Regions from separate parts of the Homo sapiens genome. Here region 1 is reported to be linked to region 2. The links are microRNA targets in miRTarBase. Many come from high-throughput screens and were not tested one by one. Region 2 holds a microRNA gene; the other region holds the end of a gene's coding sequence.

Evidence for each region. The annotated mature microRNA hsa-miR-4307 reads AAUGUUUUUUCCUGUUUCC and lies in region 2 at 4,723-4,741, opposite strand. An mRNA with a match to its seed (bases 2 to 7 or 8) in the 3' UTR can be bound and repressed. Matches are read on the target gene's strand: a 7mer-m8 pairs with bases 2 to 8, a 7mer-A1 pairs with bases 2 to 7 and ends in A, and an 8mer does both.
Region 1: the mRNA of PRR11 is a reported target of hsa-miR-4307. Seed matches in the 3' UTR shown: 7mer-A1 at 5,516-5,522.

Annotation. Positions count from the first base shown.
Region 1 is chr17:59,197,324-59,208,395 of GRCh38, forward strand. PRR11 (proline rich 11) reads left to right here. Exons shown (of 10, transcript NM_018304.4): 8 at 221-280; 9 at 370-466; 10 at 4,240-9,386. The coding sequence ends at 4,308. Among named protein-coding and RNA genes, the nearest start is that of SMG8, 7.2 kb to the right of the region's middle.
Region 2 is chr14:26,902,366-26,913,437 of GRCh38, reverse strand. It overlaps MIR4307 (microRNA 4307), which reads right to left and starts at 4,796; the gene lies at 4,713-4,796. All of the region lies in intron 3 of MIR4307HG (MIR4307 host gene), which reads right to left.

The sequences.
Region 1 (11,072 bases), not on the chromosome of region 2:
TCACTGCAAGCTCTGCCTTCCGGGTTCACGCCATTCTTCTGCCTCAGCCTCCCGAGTAGCTGGGACTACAGGCGCCCACCACCACACCTGGCTAATTTTTTGTATTTTTAATAGAGACAAGGTTTCACCGTGTTAGCAAGGATGGTCTTGATCTCCTGACCTTGTGATCCACCTGCCTCAGCCTCCCAAAGTTCTAATTTTTATATCTTTGTTTTATCAGCACTCCTGGAAAAAGTCAGATGGATCTGCGGAAACTGCTTAGAAAAGTCGATGTAGAGAGGTAATACACTCTCATATCTTTATGCCTTCTACGTCCATTTTAAAAGTTGCCATAAAATACAGCTACTGTTATTTTCAATACCTTTGCAGGAGCCCAGGTGGAACCCCTCTTACCAATAAGGAAAATATGGAAACAGGAACAGGACTGACTCCAGTGATGACGCAGGCCTTAAGGAGAAAGTTTCAGGTAACCCTTTAGGAAAAGAATATTGGTTCCTTTGCTTGAAAATAATTTGGCCTGGTGTGGTGGCTCATGACTGTAATCCTAACACTTTGGGAGGCTGAGGTGGGGAGATTGCTTGAGCCTAGCAGTTCAAGATGGGCAACATGGTGAAACTCTGTCTCTACAAAAAATACAAAAAATTAGCCAGGCGTGGTGGTGCATGCCTGTAGTTCCAGCTACTTGGGAAGCTGTGTTGGAGGATCACTTGAGCCCAGGAGGTCAAGGCTGCAGTGAGCTGTGATTGCACCACTGCACTCCAGTCTGGGTGACAAAGCAAGACCCTGTCTCAAATAAATAATCATAATCATAATTTATGATCATAATTTAAAGCAGCTTTCTTAGTAACAATAATTTTTAAATGGTACCGTATTTTGCAAAGTATTTTCATATTTAGGCTTCATAAAATTCTATAAAATACAGGTAGGATTGGCCGGGCACAGTGAGTGGCTCATGCCTGTAATCTCAGCACTTTGGGAGGCCGAGGTGGGCAGATCACATGAGGCCAGGAGTTTGAGACCAGCGTGGCCAACATGACAAAACCCTGTCTCCACTAAAAAAATACAAAAATGGCCGGGCACGGTGGCTCACGCCTGTAATCCCAGCACTTTGGAAGGCCGAGGCAGGTGAATCATGAGCTCAGGAGTTTGAGACCAGCCTGACCAACATGGTGAAACCCCGTCTCTACCCCAAATACAAAAATTAGCAAGGTGTGGTGGCGGATGCCTGTAGTCCCAGCTACTCGGGAGGCTGAGGCAGGAGAATCACTTGAACCTGGGAGGCAGAGGTTGCAGTGAGCCAAGATTGTGCCACTGAACTCCAGCCTGGGTGACAGAGCGAGACTTAGTCTCAAAAAAAAAAAAAATTAGCCATGTATGGTGACTCGTGCCTGTAATCCCGGCTACTTGGGTGGCTAAGGCATGAGAATCGCTTGAACCCAGGAGACGGAGGTTGCAGTGAGCCAAGACTGCACCACTGCACTCCAGCCTGGGTGACGGAGTGAGACCCTGTCTCAAAAAAAGAAAAAAAAGAACTATAGGTAGGATTATCATGTCTATCTGTAAATGTCTGATTTTATTAATCCCTTTAGTACATATTTTTAGTAAATATTTACTAAGCACTTCCTATATGCCCAGCAGTGTGTTGAAGTACTGGGAATATAGTGGTAAGCAAAAACAGATACAGATTACTGTCTTGAAGCTTTCAGTCTAGTGGGGAAAATAGGCATTCATCAAATAATCCCATATTTGTATAATATCACATGGCAGTATGTGCTATGAAGGAAAGGAATGAGGTTCTGTGGGAACCCAGAGAGGAACTTGATCTAGCCTGGATGATCTAGGAGGGACTCCCTTAGGAAGTGATGATGCTTGAGGTGAGAGTCGAAGAAGGAAGAGGCATTTACTGGATAGGGTAACTGTGGGGTGGGTCCACCATGAGTGTCAGGAAGGAGAGAGTTCCAGGCAAAAAGAACAAAATTCGTAAGAGTTCCATGGGGTGAGGGATCATGGCCTATTCAAGGAACTAAGAAGTGACCAGTGTGGCTGTAACACAGAGAGGGAGCCCAATGGTGGTGAAAGACAGGGATGGAGATGTAGTTAGGAGTCAGACCCTGCAGAGTTGAAAGGAAAAGGTCTTGAGAGCTTTCTTTGTCACATTCATATACAACCACATACCCAACCCAGTAGATCAGCTGGCCCTGGTGTGACTTCTTCCAAACCCTGTTGATCTTAGTCATCTCCCTAATTGCCTCTATCATTAGATCTGTGAAGAACAGCCATCCGTCGGCTGCCCCTGCTGGAGTGCTGGAACACAGGGCTGCTGGCATCTTTGGCTTTGAAGTTTATAGTTCGTTCTCTCTCTGGATGCAGGGACATAGCAGACTCCACTGCTGACACTTTCCACCCCAATATTGTCTTCCTTTTGTTCCGTGTTTGAGAATCAGTGCTTTTTGTGGGACAATATAATTTCTCTCTTACCAATCAACTTGGTCCTACTGGGCACTATACAGCTTTCTGCGTAGTGGAGATGTGACCAGGTTCTTCTTTCCTCCTCTTAGAGCATGCTACCCCTAATCAAGTTCCTTGGTGATACCCAAAATTGTGAAGGGCAGGAGCAAAGGGACGAGGCCTCACGGGTCTTAGCCCCTTGCTTTTTCTGTTTAGCTCTAAGATCTTTGTTGTCACTGCCCCTACTTCATAGCAGGTACAGTGAGTTGAGAACTCTGGAAATGGATAAACGATAATAAATTGTAAAGCCACATATTGAACAACAACAAAAATCACAGATAAGACCTATGGCATATGTTGTGCTGCCAAAATCTACTCAGGAGGAGGATGTCTAGTTAAAATTGTTGTTAGATATAGATGACTTATCCCACCCAACCCTTAGGCTTCTTTTTTTCTTAAACTGTGAAGCAACTGTATCAGGTTTTGCATTGGCTTCAGGTATCAGAAATCTGACTATAGTGGTTTAATCAAATAGGGACATGGCAGAGTGTAGTGGCTCATACCTGTAATCCCAGTGCTTTGGGAGGCTAAGGCCGGAAAGTCGCTTGAGGCCAGGAGTTTGAAACCATCCTGGGCGATATAGCAAGACTCTGCCTTGACAAATAAATAAATAAATTAGGACTTTTTTTTTTAATATATACAACTAACTCATTTATTTTATTTTATTTTAATTTTTTTTGAGACGGAGTCTCGCTCTGTCGCCCAGGCTGGAGTACAATGGCGCAATCTTGGCTCGCTGCAAGCTCTGCCTCCTGGGTTCACACCATTCTCCTGCCTCAGCCTCCCGAATAGCTGGGACTACAGGCGCCCGCCACCACGCCCGGCTAATTTTTTGTATTTTTAGTAGAGACAGGGTTTCACCGTGTTAGCCAGGATGGTCTCGATCTCCTGACCTTGTGATCCACCTGCCTCGGCCTCCCAAAGTGCTGGGATTACAGGCGTGAGCCACCGGGCCCAGCCTGTTTTTTTAAAATTTATAGACGAAGTCTCACTATATCTCCCAGGCTGGTCTCAAACTCCTGGGCTCAAGTGATCCTCTTGTCTCGGCCTCCCAAAGTGCTGGGATTACAGGCGTGAGCCACCGTCCTCGGCCCACAACTATCTTTTTTTTTTTTAAATTTATTTTTTATTTCAATACGTTTTTGGGGAACAGAAAGTGTTTGGTTACACAAATTAGTTCTTTAGTGGTGATTTCTGAGATTTTGGCACACCCATCACCCAGCCAGTGTACACTGTTCCCAATGTATAGTCTTTTATCCCTCACCCCACCCCACCCTTTCCCCCAAGTCCCCAAAGTCCACTGTATCATTCTTATGCCTTTGCATCCTCATAGCTTAGCTCCCGGACTTATTTTTTTAATTTAAATATTTCTTTGGGCAGTAGGAAGTCCACAACTATAATACAGTGGCTTCACCATATAATCACTGTTCTTCCATCCTTAATGTGTGGCTTTTATCCTCTTAATACAAAATGCCTACATTTCCTGAAGCCTCATGTCCACATTCTAGGCAAGAGAAGGAGAAAGGCAAATGTTAATTAAGCTATGCCTCATTTCTTCAAAGAAGCCCTATCCAGGAACTTCTGATTGCATCAGGGAAACTGGGAAAAGTGGTTTTTACAATCTGAATGCAGTGTTGCCATGCAAAAATTCTGGGTTCTGTTGAGAAAGGAGAGTTGTACTTATCACAGGAATATAATTGATATTATAATTGGGACTTTTTTTTTTTATAGCTGGCTCACCCTAGAAGCCCAACTCCAACTCTGCCACTTTCTACAAGCAGCTTTGATGAACAAAACTGATGCCAACTCTGCCTCACTCCATGAGATGATCCATAACAAATACAGATAAAAACACCCAGCTGGGTGCAGTGGCTCACACCTGTAATCCCAGCACTTTGGGAGGCTGAGGCAGGTGGATCACCTGAGGTCAGGAGTTTGAGACCAGCCTGGCCAACATGGTGAAACTCCTTCCCCACTAAAAATACAGAAATTAGCTGGGCATAGTGGCGGGTGCCTGTAATCCCAGCTATGCGGGAGGCTAAGGCAGGAGAATTGCTTGAACCCAAGAGGCAGAGGTTGCAGTGAGCCAAGATCGCGTCATTGCACTCCAGCCTGAGCAACAAGAGCAAAACAAAAACAAACAAACAAACAAAAAAAACCCACCCAAATCCTTTTTTTTAATGTAGTAGGGTTTATATAGATATACTAATATAATTGCATTTGGAGAATTAGAGTATGTATGGAGCCCACACATACTGTGATATAAAGTGTATATACAGATATTTGGATATTTTCTAGTTTGCATGATGATTAAGAGAACCAGATGGGAAAATACAATCTCCAAAGTGATGTTTATCCTGGAATTACCCAATTTAGATTAGAGAGGTTGTTCAAATTTAACTAGATAACTCTAGTTTGTACTGTATAGGTGCAGTTATGACAGTAAAAAAATAGCCTCTTGGCTCATACCTGTAATCCCACCACTTTGGGAGGCCAAGGTGGGAGGATTGCTTGAGCCCAGGAATTCAAGACTAGCCTGGGCAACATAATACAGGGAGACCCCGTTTCTATTAAAAATACAAAAATCAGCCAGCTGTGGTGACACATGCCTATAGTCCCAGCTACTTAGGAAGCTGAGAAGGGAGGATCACTTGAGGCTGTAGTGCACTATAATTATGCCTGTGAATAGCCACTCTACTCCAGCCTGGGCAACATAGCAAGACCCCATCTCTAAAAATTAAAAAAAAAATTTAAATTAGAATATCATTTCTAGCATCTTAGGTAGGTACTTATATCTGGCTTACAGAAGTCTAAGGTATTCCTTATTTTTATATCTGCTGTCCACATTTATACAGCTACATAAAAATTTTATGACAACTTCAACATGAACCTTATATTTTCGACAATGCCTTGCCAAGGAATCTCTGAAGTCCATAGCAGGTCACTGTGAGACCTAGTTCCCTGTTGTCACTGACCTATGTAATCAAAGACAGTAATACAGCCTGGGAAACATAGCGAGACCCTGTCTCTATCAAAAATTTAAAATTACCCAGGCATGGTGACGCACACCTGTAGTCTAAGTGTCCAAGTTACTTGTGAAGCTGAGGTGGGAGGATCACTTGAGCCCAAGAGTTTGAAGCTATGGTGAGCTATGATTGTTCCACTATACTCCAGCATTGGCAACAGAGCAAGAACTCATCTCTAAAAAGTAAAAAGCAACTCCCCAGAAAGACTGTATTTCTACAGATAAATATTGCATTGAGATGCCAAATAGAGTGTTGTTGTAAAGTCATCAGACTAGAAAGCAGACCTGGGGACAGTGTTTACCACCTAAGAGGCAGTCCTGTTTTTGAGACCCACATCTATATATAGAGATTTTTGTTTGTTTGTTTGTTTGTTTTGTTTTGTTTTGAGATGAAGTCTCACTCTGTCACCCAGGCTGGAGTGCAGTGGCGCAATCTTGGCTCACTGCAACCTCCACCTCCCAGGTTCAAGCAATTCTCCTGCCTCAGCCTCCTGAGTAGCTGGGATTACAGGTGCGCACTGCCACGCCTGACTAATTTTTGTATTTCTAGTAAAGATGGGGTTTCACTATGTTGGCCAGGCTGGTCTTGAACTCCTCACCTCAGGTGATCCACCCATCTCAGCCTCCCAAAGTGCTGAGATTACAGGCGTGAGCCACCACGCCCGGCCAGAGATCCACATCTATATTTATAACACATTTATGGATGAAAATTAAACAGGTGTCCGGGTGCGGTTACTCATGCCTGTAATCCGAGCACTTGTGGAGGCCGAGGCAGGCGGATTACTTGAGGTCAGGACTTCGAAACCAGCCTGGCCAACATGGTGAAATCCCATCTCTACTAAAAATACAAAATTAGCCAGGTGTGGTGTCACGCACCTGTAGTCCCAGTTACTTGAACCTGGGAGGCAGAGGTTGCAGTGAGCCGAGATTGCAACACTGCCACTCCAGCCTGGGTGACAGAGCAAGAGACCCTGTCTCAAAAAAAAAAAAAAAAAATTAAATGGGTAGTGACGTTAAGAGATATATATCAGCTTCTAGTAAAAGTTTTTTTTTTTAAACCTGCTAGCTACATTTACATTATGTAAAAATAAAGGGAATAATCACTGAGAATAAAGCAGTTGAGTATTTATAACAATAATATTTTATGGGGCGCTTATAATGTTTATAATATTGTAAACCACTGTGTACTCTATTCATTTAATGCTAAATGACTTGACCATTCTTGTGGGATAAGAGATCATTAAAAAAATGCTAGGGCCGGGCACCATGGCTCACGCCTGTAATCCCAGGACTTTAGGAGGCCAAGGCAGGTGGATGACTTGAGCTCAGGAGTTTGAGACCAGCCTGGGCAACATGATGAAAACTCCGTCTCTACCAAAAATCAAAAAAATTAGCCAGGTGTGATGTTGTGTGCCTGTAGTCCCAGCTACTTGTGAGGCTGAGGTGGGAGGATGGTTTGGGCCCCGGAGGTAGAGGTTGCAGTGAGCTGAGATTGTGCCACTGTATTCCATCCTGGGCAACAGAGCCAGACCCTGCCTCAAAAAAAAAAAAAAAAAAAAAAAAGGCCTGGCACAGTGGCTCACGCCTGTAATCCCAGCACTTTGGGAGGCTGAGGCGGGCAAAACACTTGAGGTCAGACGTTTGAGACCAGCCTGGCCAACATGGTGAAACCCCGTCTCTACCAAAAATAAAAATAAAAATTATCCAGGCGTGGTGGCATGTGCCTATAGCCCCAGCTACTCAGGAAGCTAAAGCACGAGAATTATGTGCATCCTGGAGGTGAAGGTTGCAGTGAGCCAAGATCACACCACTCCACTCCAGTCTGGACAACAGAGTGAGACCCTGTGTCAAAAAAAAAAAAAAGAAAGAAAGAAAGAAAAAATGCTTTATGGCCCAGTGCAGTGGCTCACACCTATAATCCTAGCACTTTGGGAGGCTAAGGCAGGAGGATTGCTTGAGGCCAAGAGTTCAAAACAAGCCTGGGCAACATTGCAAGACCCCAACTCTACAAAAAACGAAAAATTAGCCGGGAGCGGTGATGTGTGCCTGTAGTCCCAGCTACTCAGGAGACTGAGGTGGGAGAATCACTTGAGCCTGGGAGGTTGAGGCTGCAGTGAGCTGTGTTTATACCACTGCACTCCAGCCTGCTGGGTAACAGAGCAAGACTCCATCTCAAAAAGAAAAGAAAAAATGCTTTGCTACATAATGAGGCCAGGCAAAAAAAAAAAAGTCCTGTGGAAATCATATAGACAAACATTTGCAAAGCTGCTACTGCCATTGTACCAGTGTTAAACTGTGTTCTACCTTGCATCTTTTACTGATTTTTATGACAGATTTTATATTGTAACCATTCGAGAACTCTGTAAGTGCTATGGCTTCCTTAAACTACGATTTATCATATGCTCCCGGTGTTTACTTTGAGACTGAATGGCAACCAGAGAATGTAAACAACCAAGGTGCATCTGGTTATGTTTTAAAATAAAGATTAATAAAAGTTTTGGTTTTTCTCTTTCTAACCTTCTTTTTAAACTAGAAATATAATACCTATAGAAAAGTAAATGTTGGCCGGGTGCGGTGGCTCATGCCTATAATCCCAGCACTTTGGGAGGCCGAGGCAGGCAGATCACCTGAGGTCAAGAGTTCGAGACCAGTCTGGCCAACATGGTGAAACCCTGTCTCTACTAAAAATACAAAAATTAGCCGGGCATAGTGGCAGACACCTGTAATCCCAGCTACTGGGAAGGCTGAGCCAGAATGGCTTGAACCTGGGAGGCAGAGGTTGCAGTGAGCCGAGATCGCCCCATTGCACTCCAGCTTGAGCAACAAGAGCGAAACTGTCTCAAAAAAAAAAAAAAAGTATATGTTAAGTATAGAAAAATATATAAATTAAAAAATTATAGGCTTGGGGGCCAGGCACAGTGGCTCACACCTGTAATCCCAGCACTTTGGGAGGCCGAGGTGGGTGTATCACTTGAGGTCAGGAGTTTGAGACCAGCCTGGCCAACATGGTGAAACCCCGTCTCTACCAAAAAAAATATATAAAAATTATCTGGGTGTGGTGGCATGTGCCTATAGTCTCAGCTTCTCAGAAGACTGAGGCGTGAGAATCACTTGAACGATGGAAGTGGAGGTTGCAGTGAGCTGAGATCACACTACTGCACTACAGTCTGGGCAACAGAGTGAGACCTTGTCTCAAAAAAAAAAGAAAGAAAAAGAAAAATGCTTTATGGCCCAGTGCAGTGGCTCACACCTATAATCCTAGCACTTTGGGAGGCTAAGGCAGGAGGTTCGCTTGAGGCCAAGAGTTCAAAACAAGCCTGGGCAACACTGCAAGACCCCAACTCTACAAAAAACGAAAAATTAGCCGGGAGCGGTGATGTGTGCCTGTAGTCCCAGCTACTCAGGAGACTGAGGTGGAAGAATCACTTGAGCCCGGGAGGTTGAGGCTGCAGTGAGCTGTGTTTATACCACTGCACTCCAGCCTGCTGGGTAACAGAGCAAGACTCCATCTCAAAAAGAAAAGAAAAAATGCTTTGCTACATAATGAGGCCAGGCAAAAAAAAAAAGTCCTGTGGAAATCATATAGACAAACATTTGCAAAGCTGCTACTGCCATTGTACCAGTGTTAAAATGTGTTCTACCTTGCATCTTTTACTGATTTTTATGACAGATTTTATATTGTAACCATTTGAGAACTCTGTAAGTGCTATGGCTTCCTTAAACTACGATTTATCATATGCTCCCAGTGTTTACTTTGAGACTGAATGGCAACCAGAGAATGTAAACAACCAAGGTGCATCTGGTTATGTTTTAAAATAAAGATTAATAAAAGTTTTGGTTTTTCTCTTTCTAACCTTCTTTTTAAACTAGAAATATAATACCTATAGAAAAGTAAATGTTGGCCGGGTGCGGTGGCTCATGCCTATAATCCCAGCACTTTGGGAGGCCGAGGCAGGCAGATCACCTGAGGTCAAGAGTTCGAGACCAGTCTGGCCAACATGGTGAAACCCTGTCTCTACTAAAAATACAAAAATTAGCCGGGCATAGTGGCAGACACCTGTAATCCCAGCTACTGGGAAGGCTGAGCCAGAATGGCTTGAACCTGGGAGGCAAAGGTTGCAGTGAGCCGAGATCGCCCCATTGTACTCCAGCTTGAGCAACAAGAGCGAAACTGTCTCAAAAAAAAAAAAAGTATATGTTAAGTATAGAAAAATATATAAATTAAAAAATTATAGGCTTGGGGGCCAGGCACAGTGGCTCACACCTGTAATCCCAGCACTTTGGGAGGCTGAGGTGGGAGGATCACTTGAGGCCAAGAGTTTGAAACCAGTATGGGCAACATTGCAAGACCCTGTCTCTACAAAAAACAAAAAATTAGCCGGGCATGGTGGCATGTGCCTGTAGTCCCAGCTACTCGGGAGACTGAGGTGGGAGAATCACTTGAGTCCAGGAGGTTGAGGCTCCAGCGAGCAGTGTTCATACCACCTGCACTCCAGCCTGCTGGGTGACAGAGCAAGATGCTGTCTCAAAAAAAAAAAAAAAAAAAAAAGAAAGAAAAAAGAAAAATGCTTTGCTATATAACGAAGCCAGGCAGGAAAAAAAAGTCCATATAGATAAACATTTGCAAAGCTGCTACTGCCATTGTACAGTGTTAAAATGTGTTCTACCTTGCATCTTTAAATAAAGATTAATAAAAGTTTTGGTTTTTCCCTTTTTAACCTTTTTTTTTAACTAGAAATAATAATACCTATAGAAAAGTATATATTGGCCGGGCGCAGTGGCTCACGCCTGTAATCCCAGCACTTTGGGAGCCCAAGGCAGGTGGATCATGAGGTCAGAAGATCAAGACCATCCTGGCTAACACGGTGAAACCTGGTCTCTACTAAAAATACAAAAAATTAGCCGGGCGTGGTGGCAGGCGCCTGTAGTCCCAGCTACTTGGGAGGCTGAGGCAGGAGAATGGCATGAACCCGGGAGGCAGAGCTTGCAGGGAGCTGAGATCACGCCACTGCACTCCAGCCTGGGCAACAGAGTGAGACTCTGTCTCAAAAAAACAAAAAAGTATATAGTAAGTATAGAAAATATATGAATTAAAAAATCAATGCCGAGCGTGATGGCTCAAACCTATAATCCCAGCACTTTGGGAGGCCGGGGTGGGCAGATCACCTGGGGTTGGAAGTTCGAGACCAGCCTGGCTAACGTGGGGAAACCCCATCTCTACTAAAAATACAAGTTTAGGTGGGCGTGGTGGTACGTGCTTGTAATCCCAGCTACTTGGGAGGCTGAGGCAGAAGAATTGCTTGAGGAGACGGAGACAGGGAATAGGAGATGGAGGTTGCCGTGATCCCAGATAGCACCACTGCACTTCAGCCTGGGTGACAGAGTGAGACTCTGTCTCACAAAAAAAAAAAAAAAAAATTTTAGGCCGGAGGCGAGGTGTGGTGGCTGACACCTGTAATCCCAGCACTTTGGGAGGCCGAGGTGGGTGGATGATGTGAGGTCGGGAGTTCGAGACCAGCCTGGCCAACATGGTGAAACA
Region 2 (11,072 bases):
ACATGCTTATTAATCATCTATAAGGATATAAGGTACAGTATATCATCTGTGAATATTCCAAAGCTTCTGAACCTTAGTAAAAAACACAGATTTAATCACAGAATTGCCAAGGTGGCATTGCTATTTGAATATCTGGCATGCCGTTTATACTGTATAAAGAACATACACATAGTAAGTAAACATAAATGCTAGCTACTATGATAATTGCTAGCATCATGAAATGAGGTTGATAATATCAGAGAGAGAAATAATTGAACTCACGTATGTATGCATAGTGGTTATAATGATGTGTATATCCTGCTCATTAAATAGCCCAAAGTTTTCTAATTTCTTTATGTTAGTCTGACAATAACAATCCTATTGAAAGCATTCTTAGGTGTAATTCTTTTTTAATTTCTGTCCCCTGGTTAATTTTAATTTTTATTATTTATTGTTTAATATGTAAGAAATATTTATCTCATAAAATATATTATTGTTTGGCTGGCCAATGTATTGAGTATTAATCTTGTTTTGTTTTTTGTGTTTTAACATTTTACTCAAGTTTCTTGTTAACGGTCTCAAATATTTTTTGAATGATACTTTTTTTGCTTCAGATTTGTGTTCAATACCATAAGAGATTTGCTTGTGTTCTGAAGTGAATTCTCCCTTTTTGTAGTGTGTATATATATATATATATATATATATATATGTATGTGTATATATAAAACATATATGTATATATATTTGCATATATACAAACATGTAGAATTGTAATCTATAGAGAGAAAATTGTTATTTATATATATACATATATATATATAAAGACATGTAGAATTGTAGTTCAGGTATTGTTCATTGTCTTTTTCTTTTCTTTTGTACAGATATCATGTGATTTTTGGATATAATAGATATAATAATTAGAATACTGGCAAAATAACAGACAACTTCTTATTCCTCAATGGGACTAGTTTTGGTTCTTTATTAAGCTTGACGTTTTGAAATACAAACATATAAAGACCAATCTCTTTCTTTAAGAAACCGTATTCTTTACCCTGTATTCTAAAATAGTTCCAATCTATATTCAGATAGTATCGCTACTCTTTCCAGCTTACTGCTAGTGAGATTTCTTATTTCAAACATCTTAACAGTTCAGCATGTGTACTTTCTTTGGGGAACCTTGTCTATCCCACCCCTAAGTTATGATTTTATTTTTTACATAGAAAAACCACTGACCTTAGTATTTTGCAAAGGCTTTCATATTATTTTCATTTACCACAAAATTATTATATCTTTTAGAAATGAATATTTAAAATTTTGTCAAAAATGTCACATCAAGAATAGAACAATGAAGTAGCAAGAGCAGTGCCACATTTCCAAAGACCTTGATCTCCAGGAGATGTCTCAAAACAGGGAACAAGTACCTAGAACAAGGTCAGTTACACCACGGATATTCCATAAGTGCCTCTGGATAAATGAAAGGATGAGAAAATGAATAGCTATTTAAAGTGGACTTAAAGCAGGCCATATTCTACATCAGTGCAGGGTGTTCTTGATTACCTTTTGGCTCACTCAGATCTTAGAAGATATAAAAATCCTCAGTGGGTCATTTTTCATATTCAGCTAAGTAACTTAGTAATAATAATCATGTTAACACTTCCTTGCTGTAACTCCTATCTCAGAGCCACCTCATCTGAGGCAAAAAGGAATAGTAGGAACAGTGGAAGTGGTACAGTTGCAACAATATCTTTCAAGATCATTACAATCCCAATCACCAGCCCTTCCAGAGAATAAACTGTCAGCTTTCCCATCTAATAATTAGTCTTTGCAGTCATATTGTTAGGTAAAGAGGTCGAAGCAACATCAATCTGTTCTCTACAACTTATTCACAGTTAGACTGATACAGATAGGTAATTGAGAAAAAAAGTCCATATATAAAACAACAGATGTTCTCAAACAAGCAAGCTTAAATTTGTATACTAAGACAAAAACCTAAACACAACATTTTTGAGTCCTGCTTCTTAATTTTAATCTTACAAGTTAATAAATTAATGAGTAACTCATAACTGGGGGATTCTATATTGCCATCCATTCTTTTGCCCAAATCAGGAATTTGCAACCAACTTATGATGGCATGTCGTTTTAATGCAAGGAGTTGATTGTGTCCTAAGCTGTATATTTGGCATCTGTGCAGTTCTTTCTTGGTGCCATCTTGAAGCTATTCACTTTTCTTCTAAGAATGTGAAAACTATATGATGAGTTTCTTATCCAAATTATGCAAAAAATCACAGCCTTTTCTTTCTTTCTTCTTATATATGATTTTATATTAAACAGTTTTCTTTTAGTTCAAAACATTTTTATACTTTATATGTTTTTACCTATTTTTCCAAAGATACTACCTAAATATTTTAGTCAGTTTTAGCCCTTATTGTTTTACTTCCCAACTCATATTAGTAAGAAATTGATATTTATTGAATACTTGTGGCTTTTAAGAGACTTTTGTTTGGTATTTCAATTTTGATCAATGTTTTTTATTATATGACATGTTAATCTTATTTAAAAACTTGGAACTCCTACATTGCAGTTCAAAGACTAATGACATTATCCCCATTTAACCAATGTGCATCAAGTAATCCTTCATGCCAGGAATTATTCGACGTCCTCAGCTCACAGTTGTGAGCATTACAGAAAACAAGATTACATTTTAACACAGGAATACAAACAACAAAAAATAATAAAAACTTAAATAAATGAGAAAACATTGGATTAGAATTAAGTGCAAGGGAGATAATTAAATTAAGATGCTGTGATTGAGAATGACGAGTAGATACTTCATACTCAATGGTCAGGGAAAAACTTTTCTGAGGAGATAACAATGAAGCTGAGACCTAAATTTTTAAAAAATGTTTTGTGCTAATGCTGTAAGTTCTTCTCGTCTTTATATCACTTTTTTGGCATTGTTACTCATCTAGGATTTTATGATTAATGTTGTCACTGTTATTATTATTCACTTTTCAAATTCACATAAATTTTACTTTTTGATGTACCACCCTGTCAAATTTGATAAATGCTTACAGTCATATAAAACCATGACCACAATCAAACTGCAAAATAGTTCATCACCCCCCAAATAACCCCTGTTGCTGCACTTTATAGTCAACACCTCCTGCCCGCCCAGCCCATAGCAAACACTAATGTGCTTTCCGTTCCTATATTTTACTTTTCCAGAATGTCATTAGATAGAAACATACCATATAAAATTTTTTCTCTCTGCCTCTTGTTACTTAGCACATGCATTTGAGATTCATCCATGTTGTGTGTATATTATTAATCAGGTTTTTCTATTGCTGACTAGTATTTCATTGGATGTATATGTCACTATTTATCCATTAACCAATGAAGGATGTTTAGGTTTTCCCAGTTTTTGACAATAATAAATAAGACCATTATAAACCTTTCCATACAAGTTTTTGTATGAACCTAAGTCTTCATTTACCTTGGTTAAATACTGTGAGTAGGATTACTGAGTCATGGGCTTATGTTTAACTTTATAAGAAATTTCTAATTTATTTTCACAAATGGTATATCACGTTTATTCTTGCAAACAACCTATGGTATCTCATGGTTTCAATTAGTATTTCCCTAATGACTACTGATTTTGAGACTCTTATTATGCATATTTATCATCCATATATGTTTGGTGAAATACCTGTCAAATCCTTTCCTCATTTTCTATTTGGTTGTTTGTTTTCTTAAAATTAGTCTTATTAAGGGTGGGTGCACACCTATAATCCCAGCACTTTAGGAGACCGAGGTGGGCAAATCAATTGAGCCTAGGAATTCTAGACCAGCCTGAGGAACACAGCAAAACCCCATCTCTACAGAAAATACAAAAAATTAGCTGGGCATGGTGGCACACGCCTATAGTCCCAGACACTTGAGAGGCTGAGGTAGGAGGATCACCTGAGCCAGGAAGTTGAGGCTGCAGTGAGCCAAAATGGTGCCACTGTATTCCAGCCTGGGTTACAACGTGAGACTCTGTCTCAAAAATATATATATTCATATTAAGTATTTCAGATTCTTTTTACATTGTAAATACAAGTCTGTATTAGTTACCTGTTTTGCACATATTAATCCAGTCTGCAGTTTCTTTCTTTTCTTAACATTGTGTTTGCAGAACAAATACTCTTGTTTTTATAAAATAAAATTTATCAAAGTTTCTTGTGTTCTTTTGTTGTCATATTTAAAAAATATATTTAACAAGACCATCTATTGAGAAAAGAGGGTTCACATACTCTCCAATAAAGTACTTATATTATTAAGAAAAAGTTCAAGTGCCTATCTGAGAGGGAAATTTTCATCTTTGTAGATGATTGCTAGAAAAATGTTCTACCTATATTTTCATATCTCAAGTTAAGCTAAGACAGCCAACCACTTGTCAAAAATGAGGTTTACTGTAAAGAAGAAAGAATTGTAAAATTGGTATATACTTTGAAAAGTAAAGTACACCAACCTTTTCATTCAAATCTAATAAATGTATCTAAGTAAACTATTTAAAACTTTTCAACAGATGCAGAAAAAAAAAAAAAAGCCTTCCTAGAGCTTTCTTTATCTGAGTAAAAGTAGAAACTTATGGGAAATAAGGCTGCTATAAATTGCACTTCAGGGTAGATCTAATCCCAGAAGGGAAAATGTAAATAAAACCTACCTCAAACCCCTTCTCCAGGGGAGTATTATGGCCCTGAAGGAAACAGGAAAAAACATTCATAACTATATAGACAAACATTATCACAAACTTTATCTCCTGTTTTTTCTTCTGAAAGCCCATTTATCTTTCCAAAAAGTCATCTGTTTTCCCTAGGTGCCTTTCTCTCTCTCCCTTTCACCTATTAAAATTGTATTATCTATAAGCTCCAAATTCTAATTACTTCTTTTGAGTCACTCATCATTGAGTTCTTCCATGTATATGGGTGCCGCAAGCACAAATAAATTCTATTGTTTTCTGCTGTGTATAATATGGGCTAAATTTATTGGTTGGGTTTTGGAGGCTATCTAGAAGAATGTCAGCAAACTATTTCCATATGGTAGAGCAGGTGGAAAAACATGTATGTACACATGCATATCCAGAAAGAACAACAATAAAAAAGCCCTCTGCTGATCAAAAATATTCTAATAAACTCAATATACATACAATAAAAATAATACAAGTAAAAAGATAATAAAGCATAACAATTATTTACATAGCATGTACATTGTATTAAGTATTGTAAGTATTCTAGAGAGGATTTAAAGTATACGGGAGGATATTGATAAGTTACATGTAAGTAATATGCCATTTTAAATCAGGGACTTGAGCATTCATGGATTCTGTTTTAGTGGGAGTGATCCTGGAACCAATTATCTCCAGGGATAATGAGGGACAACTGGATAGCTTTTCCATCACCCACGCAGATGTAAATAACCACAAGATCATCAATAGCATTAAAATATGGTGGAATAATTAGAAAGTAATGAATATTGAGTATATATTGCATGTTTTTATTATAATATATGGAAGATATGGAAGTATAGATTTATTTTGTAGATTTTTTAAAAACTGATATGTGCATTTAAAACCTGTCTTGCAAAATTCCTAAAAATTTAATAGCTGGCTTTTAATAGACCGTAGAAGGCAGCTCCAGCACACCACTGGTCTTATGCCTTTGGAAGCTTCCCACAGCAGAAAATAAAGCCTGAGAGTGCAACAAAGCTGAGCTTATTCTAACTCCATATCTTGGTTAGCCATAAAGAGGAAAAAATAACTATAAAACAATGACAGATCTCCTTACTCTACTGGTAGTAAATTTCTGTATGCTGTACTGAACTCTTTATTGCCAGGCAAAATTCTATGTCAGTTCCAGCAGCAAACAAGACCAATGAAACCCCTGCTCTCATGGATTTACATTTCAGTAGCCCATTTTTGTTGCCCCATGACACATTCCTTTTCTTTTAATTTGTGGATTTAGAACCTGGAGCTTCTTCTTGGCTCCTTGGACAAAACCATGTTTATTCTTGGGATATACCCTATCAACTCTGATTTCTCTTTAAAGATGTACTCATTCTCCTTTACTGGGAATTCTCCATTTTTGTGGCCTCTCACTACCTCCTTTCTTTCTTTTTTTTTATCATTAATTTGTTCTTATAATTTTGTTTTTGTTACTTAAAAAAAAGACTGTGAGAAAACATTGACAAGTGTATTTTCTGTTCATCTTAAACCAGAAAATATTATCTGATAATTTGAAATCAGATTGTTAATCTAAATAGAATGAATTTAAAAAGTTCTATTTTTTTTTTTTTTTTATGGGAGTTTTGCTATTGTTGCCCAGGCTGGAGTGCAATGGTATGATCTCAACTCATTGCAACCTCCGCTTCCCAGGTTCAAGCAATTCTCCTGCCTCAGCCTCCCAAGTAGCTGGGATTACAGGCATGTGCCACCATGCCTGGGTAATTTTGTATTTATTTTTATTTTTATTTTTTAGTAGAGTCAGGGTTTCTCCATGTTGGTCAGGCTGATCTCGAACTCCCGACCTCAGGTGTTCCGCCCGCCTCAGCCTCCGAAAGTGCTTGGATTACAGGCGTGAGCCACTGCGCCCAGCCAGTTCAATCCATTTCTGAAAGTATCGTGGAAGCCTGGAAGATTTATTTAGTGGCCCTTCAGATTAACGTATTAATTTTTTAAAATAAACATAAGATAAAAGAAATATAACATCAGAGTGAAAGGAAAATTGGGACCTCATTGAGTACAATTATTCCATAGCCTCTCTATAATTGGCCAAAATACACATACATTTTTGTGACATACTTAGTTCTAAGATTTTATAAATTTCTATTAACGTCCTAAAAAATCCAATAGATGTAAAAGTTGAGCAAACTGTCTTTGAGATCCATCCAGCTAGAATTTTTTTCTGTCTTTAACCATTTTGTGGAATATATTCTTATATTTATATTTTATCATTTATATTTATATTTATATTTATATATAAATATATTTATATTTATATATATATATAAATATATTTATATATTTATATATCATTTTATATTTATATTTACAAATTTATAGTTTTCATGTGTTTTTAAACTGGGTGAATGTTTATTGTTTGGGAAATAAGAACTCTACATGTTAAAACTTAAGTTTAACTTAGAAGCAATTCAGTTAACGCTATTAAGTTTTAAGCATGTATTGATTTCGTGTTTTCATCTCAGAATGTTGTGATGCATTAAATCTGCAATTACAATAAAAAAGGCATGAGTTCAATTCCTTTAATCTGTAAAGTTGAAATGTTTTATTTAATCTATTTTAGGGTAGAAATTCAACTGGGATCCATCAAAGCATAAATTTTGTTTGATTAAAAAGCTTATGTATTGACAATTAAGCATTAAAAATATTCACTCTTTTGCATCTCATTCTAAATGAAAATAGTGACTTTTGTAATGCATTGATCAAGGAAAGCTGGATAATTTACATCTTTGAGTGATATTATTTTACACTATCTTTCTGCTTTTTAATATCTTACTGTCTACTATCACCTTTAAATCATTGTTGATGATTATAGCACAGATCAGTTCTACTTCCTTTAAGTTTCATCTGAAATGCTGAAGTTATCAGATCAAGATGGCAATGAGTAAACTGATACTGTTAGAGGTTTGTATTTGGTCCAATCTGCACATATAAATATATATATATATATATATCTGCACATATATATATATATATATATAAAAAACCAACCTATATAGGTTGTATATAGTACAAACTGTTTTAAAAGCTTTTCCTAGGACTCTTTTCAAAAAGTTGTTTAAACAAATAAAATCAAGAAGAAAATAAAATATGCTATACAACTATTTATGGAGAGTATATATTTTTAGTTTGACTTCATATTGTCAACATAGATATACTCTATGACCAGTTCATTTCTCTCCTTGCTACATTTTCTTTTTTATATAATTAGTTCTTGTCTTCTTGTGCTTTCTGAATATCGCTGCTGTATAGAGACACCTGCTGGGAAATAAATGAACAGAAGAAAATTCAAACCTGTGCTTAGAAACAAGAAAAGCTTCTCTCTTATACAGTTTAAGCAAGCTTTCCTCTAATAACGTATTTTGTATCAGAGCATACATGCCTTTGAAATATATGAAAATCTACCTATATCTGGAGCTTTGCTATTAATCTTAAAATCTCTACCTCGGCATGAGGTTTCCAGAATCTACATATAGGTACGCTTGCGGTATAAAATAGGTATGTAATACAAGACAGTTGTAAATCTATTTCAACTAAGTCATTTAAGTGTTCACATGTATCTTTAAAAATTTTTACACATAATTATTTTCCAGTGATTAGGGCTTCTCTTATTCATATTTTTACATCTTAATTTTTATTTAAAACATTTGCTAAAGCAAGGCAAACTTTTATTATTGATTGGTTTAATGTAAATATTTGCATTAACAAAAATTGTCTTTTGAAAGTTTGTTTACATGAGTATCTGTTTACATAAACCTTTGTGTTCAATTTCAATCTAAGTTGCAAATGGCAAGATTTCATTATTTTTTACGGTTGAATAATATCTCATTGTGTATATGTACCGTACTTTCTTTATCCATTCATCTGTTGGTAGATACTTAGGGTGATTCCGTATGTTGGCTATTGTGAACAGTGCTGCAATAAACATGGCAGTGCAGATATCTCTTCAATAGACTAATTTTCTTTATTATGGATATATACCCAGCAGTGGGATTGCTGGATTATATGATAGTATTATTTTGCGATTTGTAAGGAACCTCCATACTATTCTCCATAGTGGCTATATTAATTTACATTCCCACCAACAGTGTACAAGGATTCCCCTTTCTCCATATCCCGGCCAGCATCCATTATTACCTATCTCTTTGAAAAAAGCCACTTTAACTAGTGTAAGATGATAGATCATTATAGTTTTGAATTTCATTTCTCTTTTGAGTGAGTTTCCCAATTGTAAACCAGCAGATCAACAACATTGAAAATTAAATGTAAAAATACATTTAATTGATAGTTTAATAACAAACCATCAATTAGGTATTTCAATTGTGTTCCAAACTCTGGGTCAAGCTTAACTTCTTCAGAATTACGCTGATTTCTCATGTATTATAATAAGATGATAAGTCTTGAAGATGATATGAGCATATCTGAGTCCTTAAATAGTTTTAATAATTTCATTTATGTGCTTTGCTGAATGAATATCAAATAGCAGGGCAAGATTACAGGCAGGTCTTGAAGTGCAGTTACTACAGCAGTTCTCAAGTGATATTCACCATAATTCAGCTGAACATAGACCAGTCATGTGTGGAGAATGGATGAGAGCAGGATTTCCAAGCACCTGCTCTCTGCTCCCAACCAGACAGGAAAAATACAGTACATGGTGACAAACTGATATCAGGCCTCCAAACATGTGGCAAAGATGCTGACAATTGCTAAGAAGCCAACCAAACATATTATGATTAAAGATGGGGTGAACACAGCATAATATCAGAGGAGAAGAAGAGAATTCACTTTGAGAAATTACAGTCATGTAAAAAGAAAATTCACTTTATACTTAATATTAAATGACCTTAAAAATTCAGATTGTCCTATTCAGATCAAATATATAAACCAATTCCAGGATCTCAATAGCATCTTGAAAGAGAGAATAATTTATAGCGTAAGAACACAGACTCTGGAATCAAACAAAATAGAGTTCATTCCAGTGAACTTAGAGTCTCCAGTGCTAAGCAGCTGACACAAGGTCTTTAACCACTCTAAATAGAATTTTCCTTATTAACACAAAAGATATATTAATGGTACTACTGGGATGATTGACAGTAAATAAGATAATGCATATAAAGTGCTTACTAGAATACTTGGTAAGGGTAAGCATTCAACTAATAGTGACATTTTAATGCTGAACATCAGCCACAGGGGAGATTTCATTAAATCATTGTACAATTATTTCTACTAGTTTTGTGGGATTATAATGACATTATTATTTATATTCTTTGGAGAAAGAGAATATTATTTATATTCTTTGGAGAAACAGAATCTTAAATGTTGGCTTTTTGAACATTATCAAATCAGTTGGAAAAATCAGATTGAGGGATATACCACAAAAATACAAGTTTTAACTAGACTGACATTACATACTTTATGTATTATTTTCAAATATTTCCAATAAAATTCAAAACAACATTATGCCAATATACATACTATCAAAAGGAAAATACTGCCTTAATTATGAATTTTTTGAATTGTGCTTCTGTCTCACCATTGATATTTAAATGACTCCTCTTGGGCCTGTTCTCCTGGTCTACCCCCCAGGTATTTAGAATAGTATTGCATGGCTAGTAATAAAAGTCCAACACAAAATATTCAAGGTAATTTTAGTTCAGATTTTAAAACAATTTGAGATGCACCACAATGTAAATCAGAATATTATTGTTTGTTACAGGACTTGAGATTGAAAAAGTAAGCTATTACTTTTAATAGCTGAGTAAAAAGAAGAGTGACAATTGAGCAATTACAAATTGGAGGCTCCACATAACATCGACAGTATTTATTATCTCTTCTTGTAAGGAAACAAAGACAGTTTTGCAGAGATTTTGGGTTTGTTTTTGCTTTGTATGTGATTGGAATATATGTTGGCCATAGAGAGAAGAGGAATTTGGTAAAATAGAAGAATTTACTCTCAGAAATATTGACATTCTTGTTTTGTTTGATATTCTTCTTAGAAATAGGTGAAAAAAACATAAATAATGCATATGATTCACCAAGGCACTAATTTAAACTTTTCACAATATAATATCAATGACTATGTTTGAATGTTTCATAAACTCTTTACTATAAGTAATGGTATTATAAAGGTATCTTAAGGAAGATAGATGATAGATAGATACATACATACATACATATATACCTACATACATAGAATATGTACACATAAAGATATAGACAAAATAAAAATAAGTAAATGCAGTGTAACCAATTGGCATTGTTTGATTATCTGGGAAAGTAAAAGATGGTAAAAGATATGTGTGATAAAAATGAAGAA